2 separate regions of the Homo sapiens genome follow, and region 1 is linked to region 2. Evidence: fine-mapped expression QTL. A gene starts in region 2. The other region holds a variant in brackets. All regions are shown on one strand. Distances are from middle to middle. Region 1 overlaps CCDC110 (coiled-coil domain containing 110). Region 2 holds the start of SLC25A4 (solute carrier family 25 member 4).

Region 1 (8,337 bases), 320 kb after region 2:
TTTAGTAAAACAAAGTTTTATGAACTATATTCAAATGATTTTAGGTGTCTGATTTTTACATTGTTGAATAAGAGACCTTTGGAATCTATTCTGTCCCCCTTAGGAGGAGTTATCTTCCCTTCCTATTTCCCTGCAGGTGCTTTTAGTATAAGAATATTGGGATGAAGTTTACACTGGGTCTTTAGTGAATATGTGTGTGTTACATACCCCCAATATCTATACTCTAGACTTCTGTTTATACTTCTCCTTATTTCTTCTGGATGAAGCGTGGTTATGGTAGTATTGATTCTGCCTCTAACTCCCAGGGGCACCTGACTGAGTGCTAACTAGTCAGGGAACAGCGGCCACCTGACAGTGATTGGTTCAAGCATTGCATGTGACCCAGTCGGGATCCATCTGAATCAGGCCAAGAGCCTCAGTCTAAACTATTGTGAGCAAAGTGTAGCCGGGTGCGGTGGCTCACGCCTGTAATCCCAGCATTTTGGGAGACTGAGGTGGGCAGATCACCTAAGGTCGGGAGTTTAAGACCAGCCTGGCTAATGTGGCGAAACCTGGTCTCTACTAAAAATACAAAAATTAACCAGGCATGGTGGTGGGCACCTGTAATCCCAGCTACTCAGGAGGCTGAGGCAGGAGAATTGCTTGAACCCAGGAGGCAGAAGTCGCAGGGAGCCAAGATCATGCCACCACACTCCAGCCTGGGTGACAAAAATGAAACTCCTTCTCAAAGCAAAGTGTACTCTCTTCTCTGACTTGAATTTGGAAGGAGAAAGAACTGGACCTTCTAGCAGATCTTCTGCCACCACAGGGAGTCTGAGAATCCCCTACTGTGGAAAGCAGAATCAGGATACAGAGTGAGACCTATTTTGACGACACAAGACCTGATCATGTGGACTCAGCCATCCTGAAGTGAGCTCTCTCCAGGACTTTCATTTACTTGAGCTATTAAAGTGTATTTTTTCCCTAAGCCAGTTTGAATTAGACTTCATGTCACCTATAATGAGGGTCCCTATTTGTAGTCTATATATAGACTTTAAACGTGTATTGAAAAAATCAGCGAGTGCTATCTCTTTGGGCTTGTTTCCAAATACAAGTATAACAGAGAGAAGAATGTAGTTTCTTTAAAATAAATTTTGAGCCTAGAATATGCTGTGGCCTCTATTATATTAAATTCTGTGTCAGCTAATCCATTGGCTAGTGACCATCAGCTTAGAAGATGGGATGATACTTCAAGGTGAGATATTTCATATATAGATCAAAAGAAACATACCATGCTGACATTCTGCAAAGTCTGCATTCGCAAAGCCTGAAATGATTCCAACTGCTGCTGAAGGACCTATGACAAAAGTAAAGTATGAAATTGAGTATTTTTAGGTAGGTAAACGTATTCTTGAATTGTTATGATTTTATGTCTCCCAAAGTTGCCTATTACTTGAAAAGATCCCGTGAGGGTCAGGTGGTTCACATTCTTAGGCATTTTGCTAACTCCCCAATGTGCTTTCATGGAGATCCTTGTGAGGATAAAGTGAGAGAACCCGTTTGCATTTAGGGAGTATTTATTCTGAAAAAGATCAGCCTTTACCCAGAATTTTGGAGATGATAAAATGGAATATAGACTCACTTTCAATGCTGATTGTGGTTGGATTTGATTTTCTGATTCTGCTATGCAGCCATATTCTAAGAAGCAAAATTGAAAAACCATGTGACTTAATTCTTAAATTTTATTTTTTAAAACCTGTAATAGAAAGCAGTCTCCTAACTTGCTTGGATAGTGAGGCAGAGATAATGAGAACTTCTGATATTCACACTATGCTAGTCACATAAGCTTAAGTGATAATTCTCGCTTGACTTAATATATCCACTTGAGGTTGTAATAGTGTCTTCACTTTTAGAGTACACCGTTAATTTGCAACACCACACTTAGAACTCTCAAAAACTCAAATATCAAATATCTTTGTTTCTGGGATATAAACTGCATTCAAAAAAAACCTAATAATGCTCATATTATGGGAGACCCTTGGCAAAGTAGTATACAGGCCTCAATTTCTGTGAAATTTCCATGTGACATTTTTCCCCTTATGGAAACCAAGTTGGATCAACAGCATAATTTTTGTCCTGGCTTAAGCACAGTACGCACTTGTGGCTTCCCTTGGGAAGGGCAGTTTCACATTCACAGTCTTTAGATCCCCTCTTGGCCATGTATGAATGGGCCTGGGCCTGGAACACTTCTTTACCAAGGGGACTCTTTTTAAAGTCCTCGTTCACAGCCTGTGCTGGACTTGCTACCATGTGTGGGGATAGCACTCCCCGCTTCAGACTCAGTGTGTACTCCTTTGTTCTGCTTAAGTGTGTGTGTCATATGATACCTGGCCAACCCTGCTACTCTGTCCCCTGCTAGATTATAGATGGGCCAGAAGGGGCCCTCTGGCCATGGGGAACCAACACCCACTACTGAGGCTGATCTTGCTCCGTCTCTTCATTCTGTGAGTAAAGGGTTGTTGCATCCGGTGCTTGACTGTTGTGTTTTGCTTGGCGACTCCGATACTAAGATACAGTAGACAGAAGTACTCCAGCTTCTTTTGATAATAGGCAGAATGTCACTTGCTTGATACCGTCCTGGATAGATTATAGATCTGCAACAGGGGGAGACTCTATCATGTTTGCAAATGCCCTTATATCCCTCTTTGTCTGCATGTTAGGCTGCTTGCTTTGTAAACTTTTTATTAAAGAGTGTATTCATAAAAGCTTTCAGTGTCCTAAGTAAAATGAGAGCTATGATGGAACGTTCCCCTAGGCTGATAATTTCTGCCCTAAGTTTTAAAAGAGGTCAGCGAATCTCCTTTGGATTGGCAGGCTGTCAGATGTTAGAGAAGCCGCTTGCAAAGTACAGGCACCCCTTCTGCTCTCTGACCCTCACCACCAAAGGGGCAACGCTGGTTTGGAGCCTGGAGCTGCCTGGCTATTGAAGAATCCCACCTTCAGTCAGAGGGTGGGGAGGGAGAGCGAGTCTGTCTGGATCTTGCTTAGCTTTGCCTCCACCTTCAGTCAGAGGGCGGATCTTGCTGTCTGGATCTTGCTTAGCTTTGCCTCTTCTTGGGAATAAAATGGCAGCTAAACTCCTGGTATCCTGAACTGTTCATCTAAAAAATAAGGAACTGAAGGAAGGCCCAGACCAGCATAGGAAGGAAACACAACGTTTTTCAGACTCTAAAGTAACCTCTTCTAATGAACTTAACTAGACCAAAGTGCAAATCGGGAAGAATATACCACCTAGAATCCTGCCACCCACAACGAACTGTTGTTAATTTTAGGTGCCATCTTTCGGTCAGCTCTCTATGCACATAAGTGGATGAAGTGGAATCATTTTATACATAAATGGTATTTTACATAAATATTGCCTATATTTACTTGAATTTAAGAGAATTTTTAAAACTGCAAGTAGTGGAAATTATTTCTAGTATTTGGATTTTTTTTTACTACATGAGAGATATTATTTCCTAAGAGATCCCTGTAAACTAATGAAAATTAACATGAAAAGAATTAAAGATTGAAACCTTTATTGTTTCAATAACATACAGTTCTATTGTATTCATTGTTGACTTACTCCCTGCCAAGAGAGATGAGAAAATTAGCATTCTATTTCCTTCCATG[C/T]CTACTTCCCTCTTTTCATGGTATTTGCTAGTTATGTGATTTATACACTGTGAAGGTTTATGTTTACATTCTGTTCTGTAACTGTAATTTCCACACAGCTCTTTATTTAAACACGAAGATAGGATATCATTCTCATAAATGTATTCAGCCTTCAACTCTATTCTGAGTGATGTAACTGTTCAAAATTCTATCTCCTTCCCATACCTACAGGAATAGCTTCCTTTTTCTGTACAGATTTCCTTTCATTAGGAGGATTTGCAAGTTCAAAGCTAAATATAAGATTCCTTTAGCTAAAACCAAATAAGAAATATGAGACCAAAAGAAATGTACAGACTTAATAAAGGGATACAGTAAATCAAAGATTTCAAAGAAAGCAATGGGATTTATACATGTTGTCTACATATATTTTCCATCTTCCATCTCTTCTTCCTTTTTTGGCCTCACCGTGATTGCACTGTTACTAAGCAGCTTAGTGGACCCATGGGAGCACAAGATGAGGACACGTCGGAGCAGGAGACAGGGGCTAGGTTATGCAGAGCCTCCAGGCCAAGCTGAGCGGGTTGGCTTTTCCTTCAAGTGAAACGGGGAACTTTGGAAGGTTTCCATCATGAGAATGATTTGATCTGACTGAAAAGTTTACAGGTCACTCTGCTACATGATAATAGAGTATGGGGTGGGGTGAGAAGGCAATTGCAGGGCTACCGCAATAATCTAAGTGGAGATGAAGATATCTTGGACTAGAATGGTGGTGGGGGAGGTGGGGAAAGCAGGTAGATTCAGAATATACTTTGGAGATGAAGCCAGCAGCATTGCTGGAGGATTCGTTGGGGCCAGGAGAGATGAATGAATGATGGCTCCTTGTTTTTTGGTGAGAGCAGATGGATGAGGGATGATGTCATTTACTGGGGGAAAACAGTAGAGTAGGAACATACTTTAGGAGAAAAACATTTTTAGATATGTTAAGGCTAGGTTGTCTGTTAAACATCAAAGAAGAGATATCCAATAGTCAGGTGGGTCTACCAGTGTATGATTCATGGGAGCAGCAATGAACACATCATTCAACATGGATGGGCCGGGTGCAGTGGCTCGCACCTGTAATCCCAGCACTTTGGGAGGCCTAGGCGGGCAGATCACGAGGTCAGGAGATCGAGACCATCCTGGCTAACATGGTGAAACCCTGTCTCTACTAAAAATACAAAAAATTTGCTGGGTGTGGTGGCATGTGCCTGTAATCCCAGCTACTCGGGAGGCTGAGGCAGGAGAATCGTTTGAACGTGGGAGGTGGAGGTTGCAGTGAGCCGAGATTGTGCCACTGCACTCCAGCCTGGGAGACAAGAGCGAAACTCCATCTAAAATAAATAAATAAACAAACAAACATAGATGTCACTGCTGGCCATGCAGAAGGACATGCATAGAAGCCCGAACGAAGTGCTTGAGGAGAGAATGGAATGTGGAGATTGGTGGGCATGGAGGATAGGTCACTGTTTCTAGTTTCACTGTGGAAGGGAAGACAGTGCATCCTGGAAGAGATGTGAAAGTCAAGAGGGATTTTTTTTCTTTTTTTGAGATGGAGTCTCACTCTGTTGCCCAGGCTGGAGTGCAGTGGCATGATCTTGGCTCACTGCAGCCTCCACCTCCAAGGCTCAAGCGATCCTCCCATGTCAGCCTCCGGAGTAGCTGGGACCACAGGTGTGTGCCACCACATCTGGCTAAGAGAAGGAATTTTTTTTTTTTTAAACCACAGGACATTCTAACATGCTTGTTTGCTGCTGGAATCACATAGTAGAAAGGGAGAAAAGCAATAATTCCGGACAATGAGGGAGGCTAATTGCAGAAGCTGGGACTTGAGAATTCCACAAGAGATGAGATCCAGAGGAAATCACTTTTGATTGATCAAGGACAATTCTTCCGTTGAAATGGGAGAAGACCTAGAATATGGGTTTCACAAATGTGAAGGGTGAGAATGAAGGAGTTTGGGTCTGAGTGCTTCTACTTTTTTCATATAGAGTGGGACCATGTTATGAGTGGAGCGGCCAGGGAGAAACGTGTTCAAGATTTGAGAACAGGAGGAGTGAAATAGCTTTTTTGCAGAGGATTTGAAGAAGAATTTTCTGTGGAAATAAAGTAAGTTTTCCCAATAGCATTGAGAGTGCATTTTAGATTCATGGTATGACTCAAAAGTGAGTGTTTTTCTCCAGCAAAGTTCAGATGATTCTGCACAGGCAGAGAGTAGGCAGGGAGTCGGATTCATCTATTTTTAAAAGCTATTAACATAACTTTCTGTTTTTCTTATGAGTTTCAGAGACATCGGCTGCTACTTATTCCCAAAGGAAAGGTAATTTAAAAACTAGGCAATACTTAGTCACACAGAATTACGTGATTCTAGAATTGGAAGGGAAATTATCAAAGAACCCAGGAGATAAAACACAATCACACTTCACCATTTACCAAGTCCCTGCTAAACATACAATATCGGGAGGCACATAAACAAAGCGGAAGGCATGGTCCCACCCACCAAGATGAGAGTTTATTGGGAATGTAAGAATATTACTCATCTCATATTCAACTTAAATTTTCCAGCTGCTTCATATTTCTGTCAAAAGTGAAAAACAAGGTAGTTATCAATGGGATGACTTTTGAGGTAATTTTTATTCTGAGCCTGCAAAAAATATTGTATTCAATGTATACAAAAAGTACCAACTGCATACCTGTAGCAAACAGACCAAGAGGAACCAATACATTCTGAAAATGCAACAGGGTAACGATTCTATATAAGATGTCAGGCTCTCTGCAAGCTTTGTAATTCTTAGTTTCTTCTCATTGCAACCTCTGCCTCCCGGGTTCAAGTGATTCTCCTGCCTCAGCTTCCTGAGTAGCTGGGACTACAGGCATGTGCCAGCACACCCGGCTAATTTTTGTATTTTTAGTAGAGACGGGGTTTCACCATGTTGGCCAGGCTGGTCTCAAACTCCTGACCTCAGGTGATCCTCCTGCCTCGGTCTCCCAAAATGCTGGGATTACAGGCGTGAGCCACCATGCCTGGCCGCAGGTTCTAATACTGAGTTCTGCTGTGACAATTCAAGTTCATTCCTAGATGTCCCTGTCTTACAAAGCTTTGTGAGGTGTGGCACCCTCTGCATGAGGCTTTGTCACAGTCATTATGCAAGGAGCTATGCAACAGGTTGCCTGCCGCCCAGATTTGAATTCTAGCTTTGCCACACACTCGCAGTGAGGGGATAACTCTAGGCGAGTGTCCAGTTTGTAGATAAAGCCCTTACTGAGGTGTACGAGGTGTACGGCACATAGTGAATGCTCAAGAGACACTAACTCATTACTGCAGAGGCAATATGATGATAATTTGGTAAATTCAAAATTTCTAGTCAAGACGGAGGGGAGAGAAGCCTTCTCAAAATTCTCCAGTGCTTCTCAATTTTCTCAGAATAAATCCCAAATTCATCCATGGAACTACAAAGCCCTGTCCTGGTTCCTCCCGCCTACCCTTCCCTACTTGTTCTGCTCCATTTACAAGAGCAACCGTTCCTCAATCACACCAGCCACGCTCCCACCACAGGGTCTTTGCAGTTGCCATTCTCTCTGCCTGCGGTGCTCTTTCCCTAGAAATCTGCACAGATTGCTTCTTTACTTCCTTCTGGTCTTGGCTCAGACGTGACCTGCTGAGTGAGCCCTTCTCCTACCACCCTGTTTAAAATGACACACTTCCCACCCACCTCTGCCACTCCAAATATTCCTCCCCCCCTTCTCAGCCTTATGTTCTCCATAGAATTTATTCCCCGCTTACACACAATAGCCTTTGTCTGTCTGTTCCCTCACTAGAAGGTAAGCTCCATGTGGGCAGGGAATCTTGCAAGTCTTGTTCACTGTTGGATCCCCAGCACCTAGAACAGCACTTGAAACTTAGCAGGTGCTCAAAAGAATATGCTCCACAAACGAATGAATGAATGAAAGCTCGGGTACAACAGGGTGCTGGGAACAACACCCTGGACACCCTCAAATTCAAAAGTCTCTCACAAACCCATTCCAATAAGGGTTAATTAGGTTAACCACTAGTTCTGAAATCAGAGACACCTTGGGAACATTCTATAACTCTTTGTAACCTGGCAGTAGTTATGCAAATCAGGTCATTATTTTCTCAGTACACGGGGAATGGATCACTTGGTGACAATGAAAGCATCAGTAGGAGAGTAGAGAGAAGGGCGCCAGCCATACCTCCTAGTTTTGCCTATAGTTGCAGGCAGGAAATTCCTGGGTGGCCCCTGACTCAAGATAACTGGTGTTTATTAAGAACCTGTCCTGTGTCAACCCCAGACCTGTAAACACTGTGTTCTGGCAAGAAAGACTGTAACTCTTAAACATGTACATGTGCTATTTTGCATGTAACTATTTTCTATAAATGTTGGCATCTTTCTCCAGAACCCTAAGCCTCATTCATGTCAAAAAACATGTGATCTTGCCAAATTAAGGTACTTCTATTTCTTCTGACCTTACATGCTCTCTTTGAGGTAAATACGGAGCTACCTCAATGTCTCAACTCTCTGTGAGGACTCTTTCTCCTTCGTTCAGGGGGCCCCTTTGCCCCTCCTGGTTGCCCAGGGAAACCTGCATATCTCAAGGGTGGAGGCAGGAGGGCGGAGAGGGGACTGGCCAGTGCCTGTCCTGCTGGCCTCC
Region 2 (8,337 bases):
CGGTGGAGGCAACACACTGAAAGTCACTCTGCTGGAAGTACAACCAGAACCCCCTCTTGGGTCCTTGTCCTTGCCAGGCTGCGTTGGAATTGCCTGTAGGCACCACAGCTATGTCTGTTCCTGGCATGTAAGCTTCTCCACATAGCCTGGGCAACATAGCAAAACCAGGAGACCACAGCAAAACCTGCAAATTAAAAAATATATATATCCGGGCATGATGGTATGTGCCTGTAGCCTCAGCTACTCAGGAGGCTGAAGCAGGAGGATCCCTTGTGCCTAGGAGTGCATGGTTTCAGTGATCTGTGATTGTGCCACCGTGCTCCAGCCAGGGTGACAAAGCAAGATGCTGTCTCTAAAATAAATAAATAAATAAATGCACATATAAATATCTTGATCCTCTTCGCTTAATGCTGAAACTTACCATGTGAACAAACACTAGTAGTGTGTTCTAATTCCTAATACTTTAAATGTACACTTGCACACAGGCATTATGTTATCACCACCATTAGCACATCCTTTATTGTTTTTCTTTATTCCTTGTCACTCTTACTCTTTAGCAACTTCCATTCTCTATTCCCAGTTTGGTAAGAGACTAAGTCTATAAGAGCTTCCACTAAAATTCCAAAAGGCTAACTTTCCACCCTGCTCTCATTTCTACATGGCCCTGTTCCCACCAGCATCTAAGATCCCATCCACGATTGAAAGTAGAGTTTCTTCTCATCTCCTAGATGCCTTGTCCATTCTCCTGCTGGAAGAAAGCCACTAAGTACTGGGTTGGGCGGGTGGACACATGTTCTGCCGAGCGCCATTCTCTCCCCTGCCTGTGTAAGTGATACCAGGATCTTGTGACCACAGGCAGCTCATGCTCCCGAGGGCATGTAAGGCCTCTCTTTTCTGAGAAAGTCCGTGGAAGCAGAGGACAGTGTATGAGTTTCCATGGAAAACCTCTTGTCAAGGATTCCAGCTATGACTCCTTCTATAGAACAGGATAACTGGAGAGTAGCCAAGGAGAAATATATCTCCCATTTAGAAAATATCCAAAACTCTGATTGGTAAAATTAAGTGTAACAAAGATGATACTACTTCCTGAATTCATATATTAATTAATATTTAATTTAGTTTAAATGTCTATTTAAAATCTTCTGGTGATGTTTAAACAATTGAACAACTTGATAGTAAAAATAAATCCAGACACATAAGCAGATAAAACTTTATTTTTTAAGTGATTGTAGAATCATATATCAGCCTATTTTTAAAAAATGAAGATCAAATAAATATGTCATAGTGTGGATATTTCATAAATTAAAGCTATTATGAGAACTTAATATATGACAAACTAGACTTAGTAATATAAGACAAATAATGGAGAGAAGAAAATATCTACTTAAGAATTAGTATTGGGATACCCAAGCATGATATGGAGAAAAGTGAAATTAGACCCATACCTCCATACAATATAAAACGTAGTGTTAGACATTTTAAAAATAGCTACTCAAAGTAGAAGAAAAAAACTGATATATGTACTAGAGTAAATAGACTGCTATATCTATAAAAGAGATACATTTACATCAGAACATGAAATAGATCATCATCATACCATAGATCTGTTCATAACACTAATAGAATGATATAATAAATATCAAAAGGAAAACAACAAAATGAAAAACATTCAACACATATTTATTGTCCCAAATATATAAAGAATTGTTGTTAATATAAATACTCTGCTTTCACTCCAGCAGTAGTCAAGGAAGATTAAAAGTTTATACAAAAGGGAAACCTTGTCAAACTGTCAAATTAAATTGAATCATATGGAATATATACAGCTTCATAGTAATTAAGTAAATACAAACTAAAACTCATAAATAACTCACAAATAACCAACTCTCTATTTTTTTAAAGCCAGTGTTGGAGAAGAGTGTGAGAGAAAGCCCATCTATATAACTGGTGGGTTGGTATTTCTGAAGAGCAATTTGTCAATATGTAGCAAAAGCTACAAAACTTTAAAAATCTTAAATCTATCCATTCCATTTGGGAAATATATGAGAAGAAAAAACTTAGAGGAGAAAATGAAGTTTGTGTAAGTTTCAATGTAGCAGTATTAGTTTTCCTTCCTTCCTTCCTTCCTTCCTTCCTTCCTTCCTTTCTTTCTTTCTTTCTTTCTTTTTTTTTTTTTGAGTCAGAGTCTTTCTCTGTTGCCCAGGCTGAAGTGCAGTGGAGTGATCTCAGATCACCATGACCTCTGCCTCTCGGGGGTCTCGTGCCTGAGCCTCCTGAGCTGCTGGGATTCCAGGCATGAGCCATCACGCCAGGCTAATTTTTGTATTTTTAGTAGAGATGGGGTTTTGCCATGTTGGCCAGGCTGGTCTCGAACTCCTGACCTAGGTAATCTGCCAGCCTCAGCCTCCCAAAGGTATGAGCCACCACACCCGGCCTATTTTTCATCATAAAAATAAGACACAATTCTAATGCACAATTAAAAGGAAAATGGAGGTATAAAAGCAAGTGCTCTATATTACAGGATGGGATACAGTACACTATTATAATTAAAAAGGTTTACTGTGTGGATTATGCTGATCCATGGAAATCAGTAAGTGAAGTTTTGATAAAGTGGAGCAAGTGACGAATACACTGAACTGTAAGGTCTTTGGAGATGGGCCACGTCTACTTATATTCAATCCACAGGGCTACACCTAGTTCTTGGTACACAGTACATGCTCAGCAAGAGTCTGTTGAATGAACACATACATGGTTTATCTGTTTGTCTCTTCCGAGTTCTTGACTTCTGTCTGCTCTGACCTCTGGCAGCTTTCCACTAGTTTCTAGCTTTCATTCTGCTTACCTGGATTTCGGAACTCTAGCCTGCCCCACTCTTAGATAAACGCATGCCCTCTGTGGCCCTGGAACCTTAGTGACTTCTGCTATACCAAAGTCTCCACGCCCAGGGTGACACGCAGCTGCAGCTCCGTAAACCTCTAACATGATGTCAGCAAATATTAAAAAAAAAAAGTTTATAAAACAATGAATAAACTTTGTTAAAGGTACAAATGAAAATTAGCAAACATGGGAAGATAATTGAGTGAAGAGTTTAAAGTTAAAAACGAATTGCAGTCATTCTAGGGGAAGGAACAGTTGTATTTGAAAACCTGTATGGTTACATGAACTGCCTAAAAAACAAGCTAAGGAAAATTAAAGCTCAGATTTATATATTTTAAGAAATTAATTGCAATTAATTTCCTGGGATTAAATAGCATTTCCTCAACCCCAGCTGTCATTAAAAAGAGGCAAATACAGCCAAGGACTGGATCTCCGGAAGGCTGACAGCACTGACCCTCAAGAAGGCACCGGCTGACAGACAGAACATTCTGCCCTAATATGTGCTGAAATTCCGCTGAGAGCAGAGTGGTACATTGAACCCTTTAGGGGCTTACAAAAGAAGTGTCCTGTGTTTTAGAGTCACAGAGTTTTGCAGAAACAAGTATGAATTCACCTAGTGGCCCCCTGCACCAGGTCTTTCCTGTGGGCACTGAGTGCCAGACACATCAATATGTAATAGCAGAATGAATGACTGAACGAACGATTGAATGAAAAGAAATGAGAGGCAGCAGGTTGTCAGATTCTATGAGGCAATCACAGCATCAGGTGACCTTAGTATCTATTTGAGAGGACTGCCATTTATTCTCGGGAGCGCACGGCTCTAAAGAGGCCCATATCCAGGCAGTGAGCTCTGGTGGGGGGCGCCTTTAGATGCAAGAAGGAGGAAACAGCTCGAAATCCCTGGGCCTGAGCGCGGCCCGTGCAGGCCGGAGGGTCAAGAACTCTCCACCGGCGGCAGCGGCCCGGTGTCTGCCCCGGCTTCGCCCCGGCCTAAGGCTGCCTGTGCTATAAATACGCGGCCCACATGCCGCGGTGACACGGTGTTCCCTGGGCTCGGCGGGACAGATAACATGAATGTGCCCTTTAAACGTCCCAAGTTGCAGGGACAGCCCCCGGCCCAGCCTCGCTCCCGGAAGCGCCTTCGCCCCCGATGCCCTCTGCAGCTGGGAGGAGGGGGCGCCCCGCACCTGCCCAGCCAATGCGCGGCGCGAGCGCCGGCCGCGACCCGCCTCCTCTCGCGAGAGCCCGGCGGGGATATAAGGGGGAGCTGCGGGCCAGGCGGCGGCCCCCTAGCGTCGCGCAGGGTCGGGGACTGCGCGGCGGTGCCAGGCCGGGCGTGGGCGAGAGCACGAACGGGCTGCCTGCGGGCTGAGAGCGTCGAGCTGTCACCATGGGTGATCACGCTTGGAGCTTCCTAAAGGACTTCCTGGCCGGGGGCGTCGCCGCTGCCGTCTCCAAGACCGCGGTCGCCCCCATCGAGAGGGTCAAACTGCTGCTGCAGGTGAGGACCGCGCGGTGCAAGAGGCGGGCGCGGGCGCGGCGGGCCGGGCGGGGCGCGCGATGCGGCGCGAGCTGCAGGGCGCGGGGCGCCGCGGAAAATCTGCGCCAGGCCACAGGCCCGGGCGCCCGCCCGCCCGCCCGCCCGCCCGCGGGGGAAGAAGGTGCCCTCTGCGTAGAGACAGGTCCAGCGTCAGTCGCAGATTCCTGGTGTCGGGTGGCGCCCGGCGTTCGGGTGTCTATATATGGAAACCCACCCGGAGCCGGTTTACGTGTGCCAGATCCTGCGCCCGTGACAGCACGGGCGTGCACTCAGGCCCGGAGGCACCTAGTGATTGCCAGTATTTTTGGCACCGTCTTATGCGCACGCACCTTTACAATAAAAACATCAAAATAATCATCACCCAAGAATTCCCTTATCGTATCTCATGCACAATGCTGTATGTAGGCTGACGCCTTCATCTTTATGTAACCTCTGTGAGAGAGTTATTCTTCTCCATTTTACAGATGAAGCTGAGGTTTTGAAATATTAAGAAACAATTTTCGGAATAAACTCAGATCATCCTGTCTCCAAATCTTTTCCTCCCCTACCTGGTCGCTGAATGGTTTATCATCCTCTCGTGTTTTCCTCCACCTGCCCAAAAGGTCAGGGCCCCTCAATGAGGAAGAGCCCAATTTGGGAGTCAGAATTACTAACAACAAAACCCCCACAAATTGCTCACAACGGCAGCAAACCCTTAATAATTGATTACTTGGATTATCTGCTTGAAAACTTTGGAGGCCTAATGTTTAGTGGATTTATTCTCCTTCCTCTATTAGAGCATCTAGTAGAGATCCTCATCTCCAGGGTGATCAGAGTGACACTGAGAAATTGTCATTTTTTGGCCATCATGTCTATTAAATCCAAAGCCCTTTGAAGCAGGGAGTGTTACTCATTTCTGTCCCCCAGTAAGCCCCTCATACAGTTCTCAAACCTAGGGAAAGTGAAATAAATAAATGGCTATAGCTTTATATAATTCAATCACCTTTTCAGTTTATTTGGGGCAATACCTTTTCCCTCAAATACCCTAATAATTGAAGCAACATTGGATTATTTTGGCTTGTTATCCAGTAACTAACATGGATAACAGTATCCATTTACACGTCCTCAGTATCCATTTGATTTCCTCATCCTTTTTTTCTTCAAAAAAAAAATCTAGGAAGTGCAAACCTTTTTTTTTCTCCTGTCCTCTTCCCTTCTCTCTACCCTGCCTGTCCTCTGTCACCCACCCTCCCCTCCACCAGGTCCAGCATGCCAGCAAACAGATCAGTGCTGAGAAGCAGTACAAAGGGATCATTGATTGTGTGGTGAGAATCCCTAAGGAGCAGGGCTTCCTCTCCTTCTGGAGGGGTAACCTGGCCAACGTGATCCGTTACTTCCCCACCCAAGCTCTCAACTTCGCCTTCAAGGACAAGTACAAGCAGCTCTTCTTAGGGGGTGTGGATCGGCATAAGCAGTTCTGGCGCTACTTTGCTGGTAACCTGGCGTCCGGTGGGGCCGCTGGGGCCACCTCCCTTTGCTTTGTCTACCCGCTGGACTTTGCTAGGACCAGGTTGGCTGCTGATGTGGGCAAGGGCGCCGCCCAGCGTGAGTTCCATGGTCTGGGCGACTGTATCATCAAGATCTTCAAGTCTGATGGCCTGAGGGGGCTCTACCAGGGTTTCAACGTCTCTGTCCAAGGCATCATTATCTATAGAGCTGCCTACTTCGGAGTCTATGATACTGCCAAGGGTGAGAGAGGGGCATCGGGGAGAAGGAGGGTGGTGTGGAAAGAGGATCCTATGGGATCTATAACTCACAAAGGACCTGATATATATTGATCTTGTTTTTTCTAGTCTCTGGGATAATTGAGGCTTCTGAATGAGGAGGTGATGTGCATAAGTTAATAGCTGAAGCGTTCCTTGTGTCCTCTACTGAAATAAACTCTGGCCTTTAGTTATTCAGAGAGGAGGAGGGGGGAGCCTGTCTCCCTCTAGACACAGCCATAGCAGTTACTGAGTTTAACTTGAAGCCACTTCCAATGCCCTGTATACAAGCTGAGCACTGCCCCTCCGGGGTCCGGAGAGGGCAGCAGCCACCTTTGCTGTCTGCCTGGTCATATGTGAAGCACCTGCACAGGGGCAGGTTCCCCGCAAGGTCAGAGCATGGAGCTGGAGGTGCAGTGGCCTCTCTCCCTCCACCTGCTTTCTGCTGAGAACAGGCACTTCATAGCCGTTCGGCTTCTGGGCTCTGTCCACAGGGATGCTGCCTGACCCCAAGAACGTGCACATTTTTGTGAGCTGGATGATTGCCCAGAGTGTGACGGCAGTCGCAGGGCTGGTGTCCTACCCCTTTGACACTGTTCGTCGTAGAATGATGATGCAGTCCGGCCGGAAAGGGGGTAAGCTTGTGCTCTACTCATCTAAACTTGTTTGGTTTTGCCCGAGGAGAACATTTTACAGGGCTCCTTTCAGTCTTCCTTACTGGAAATTAATTTTCAAAATTATTTGATAAGGACTTAGGGAAGAAAGATGGTATTAATTCCCCCTAACGTTCTCAACTATCCTATTAGGGAAAAGTATTTTCCATTTTATTAGAGATGATAAGAACATGAATAGTAAGACATTTAGATGTGAATTTAACTAGGTATCCAGCATTATAGAGACCCTAGGCCCTCTTCCCTTAGAGCCTGGGTGCAAAAGCTAGGGAAAAGAAGTAGTTAGCTACTTCTTACAAAGAACTCTTGCTTCCCTCCTAGTTACAGGTGTTAGTGGGATGGGGTGTTTAGCTGGGTAGAGATGGCCTGAAGCAATCTGTTGTGCCAGAGAAAGTTTTGGCTTCTATAGGTTGAACCATACGAAATTGCCACTTTAAAAGTCAAAAACAGTCCAATGTTAGCAGTTTCGTATGTTTCAACGAATAGTTACAGCCTTTTATTTAGACTGCATAACCTCGTGCAGGATCATCTGAGGCTCGGCCTCAGTTCGGTCCTCCATAAAAAAAGGTAACCGCGTAGCATAATACTCCTGCTCCACTGCGCCCTTCTTGTTTCGCAGTTGGGCAGTCCATGAATTACTTGGTTAATTGCCCCAGTTCTTCACTGACCTTGAACTAATGGAGTAGGAATGACAGGAGACCCAGCCTGCCAGTGAAGCAAGGAAGGAGATGTCCAGTGGGATGTTGCATGGAGCTGGGACTCCATGCCCAGATGACCCTGATTTTATAAAACTGGTAACAGTGTGTACAGATATGTTTCAGGGGAAAAGTCTCTTTCCTCCAGCGTTACGGAGCCCTCACCAGCATTTGTTTCCACAGCCGATATTATGTACACGGGGACAGTTGACTGCTGGAGGAAGATTGCAAAAGACGAAGGAGCCAAGGCCTTCTTCAAAGGTGCCTGGTCCAATGTGCTGAGAGGCATGGGCGGTGCTTTTGTATTGGTGTTGTATGATGAGATCAAAAAATATGTCTAATGTAATTAAAACACAAGTTCACAGATTTACAGTGAACTTGATCTACAAGTTCACAGATCCATTGTGTGGTTTAATAGACTATTCCTAGGGGAAGTAAAAAGATCTGGGATAAAACCAGACTGAAAGGAATACCTCAGAAGAGATGCTTCATTGAGTGTTCATTAAACCACACATGTATTTTGTATTTATTTTACATTTAAATTCCCACAGCAAATAGAAAATAATTTATCATACTTGTACAATTAACTGAAGAATTGATAATAACTGAATGTGAAACATCAATAAAGACCACTTAATGCACGCTTTCTATTTTATTGAACTCTTATTAACTGTAAAATGCATTTTTAAAAGATCAAAAATGCATATTTTCTAGCATGATTCATGTATCAGTCAGCAGCCAAGCTTCTAAATGCCAGATATTATATTGAGAATGTATTATATGAGAACGTACAATGCTTAAAGTTCCGGTTT

Evidence for each region. PIP is the estimated chance that this variant, and not a neighbour inherited with it, causes the effect.
Region 1: its variant is fine-mapped to the expression of SLC25A4 in whole blood (TOPMed, PIP 0.97).

What each region holds. Positions count from the first base shown.
Region 1 is chr4:185,461,373-185,469,709 of GRCh38, forward strand. It overlaps CCDC110 (coiled-coil domain containing 110), which reads right to left. Exons shown (of 7, transcript NM_152775.4): 3 at 1,622-1,677; 4 at 1,271-1,336. Among named protein-coding and RNA genes, the nearest start is that of CCDC110, 6.2 kb to the right of the region's middle. The variant C/T (reference allele first, on the strand shown) is at 3,652.
Region 2 is chr4:185,139,106-185,147,442 of GRCh38, forward strand. It overlaps SLC25A4 (solute carrier family 25 member 4), which reads left to right and starts at 4,161. Exons shown (of 4, transcript NM_001151.4): 1 at 4,161-4,378; 2 at 5,659-6,145; 3 at 6,654-6,794; 4 at 7,709-8,337. The coding sequence starts at 4,268. The coding sequence ends at 7,866. RefSeq lists a silencer at 3,933-4,232.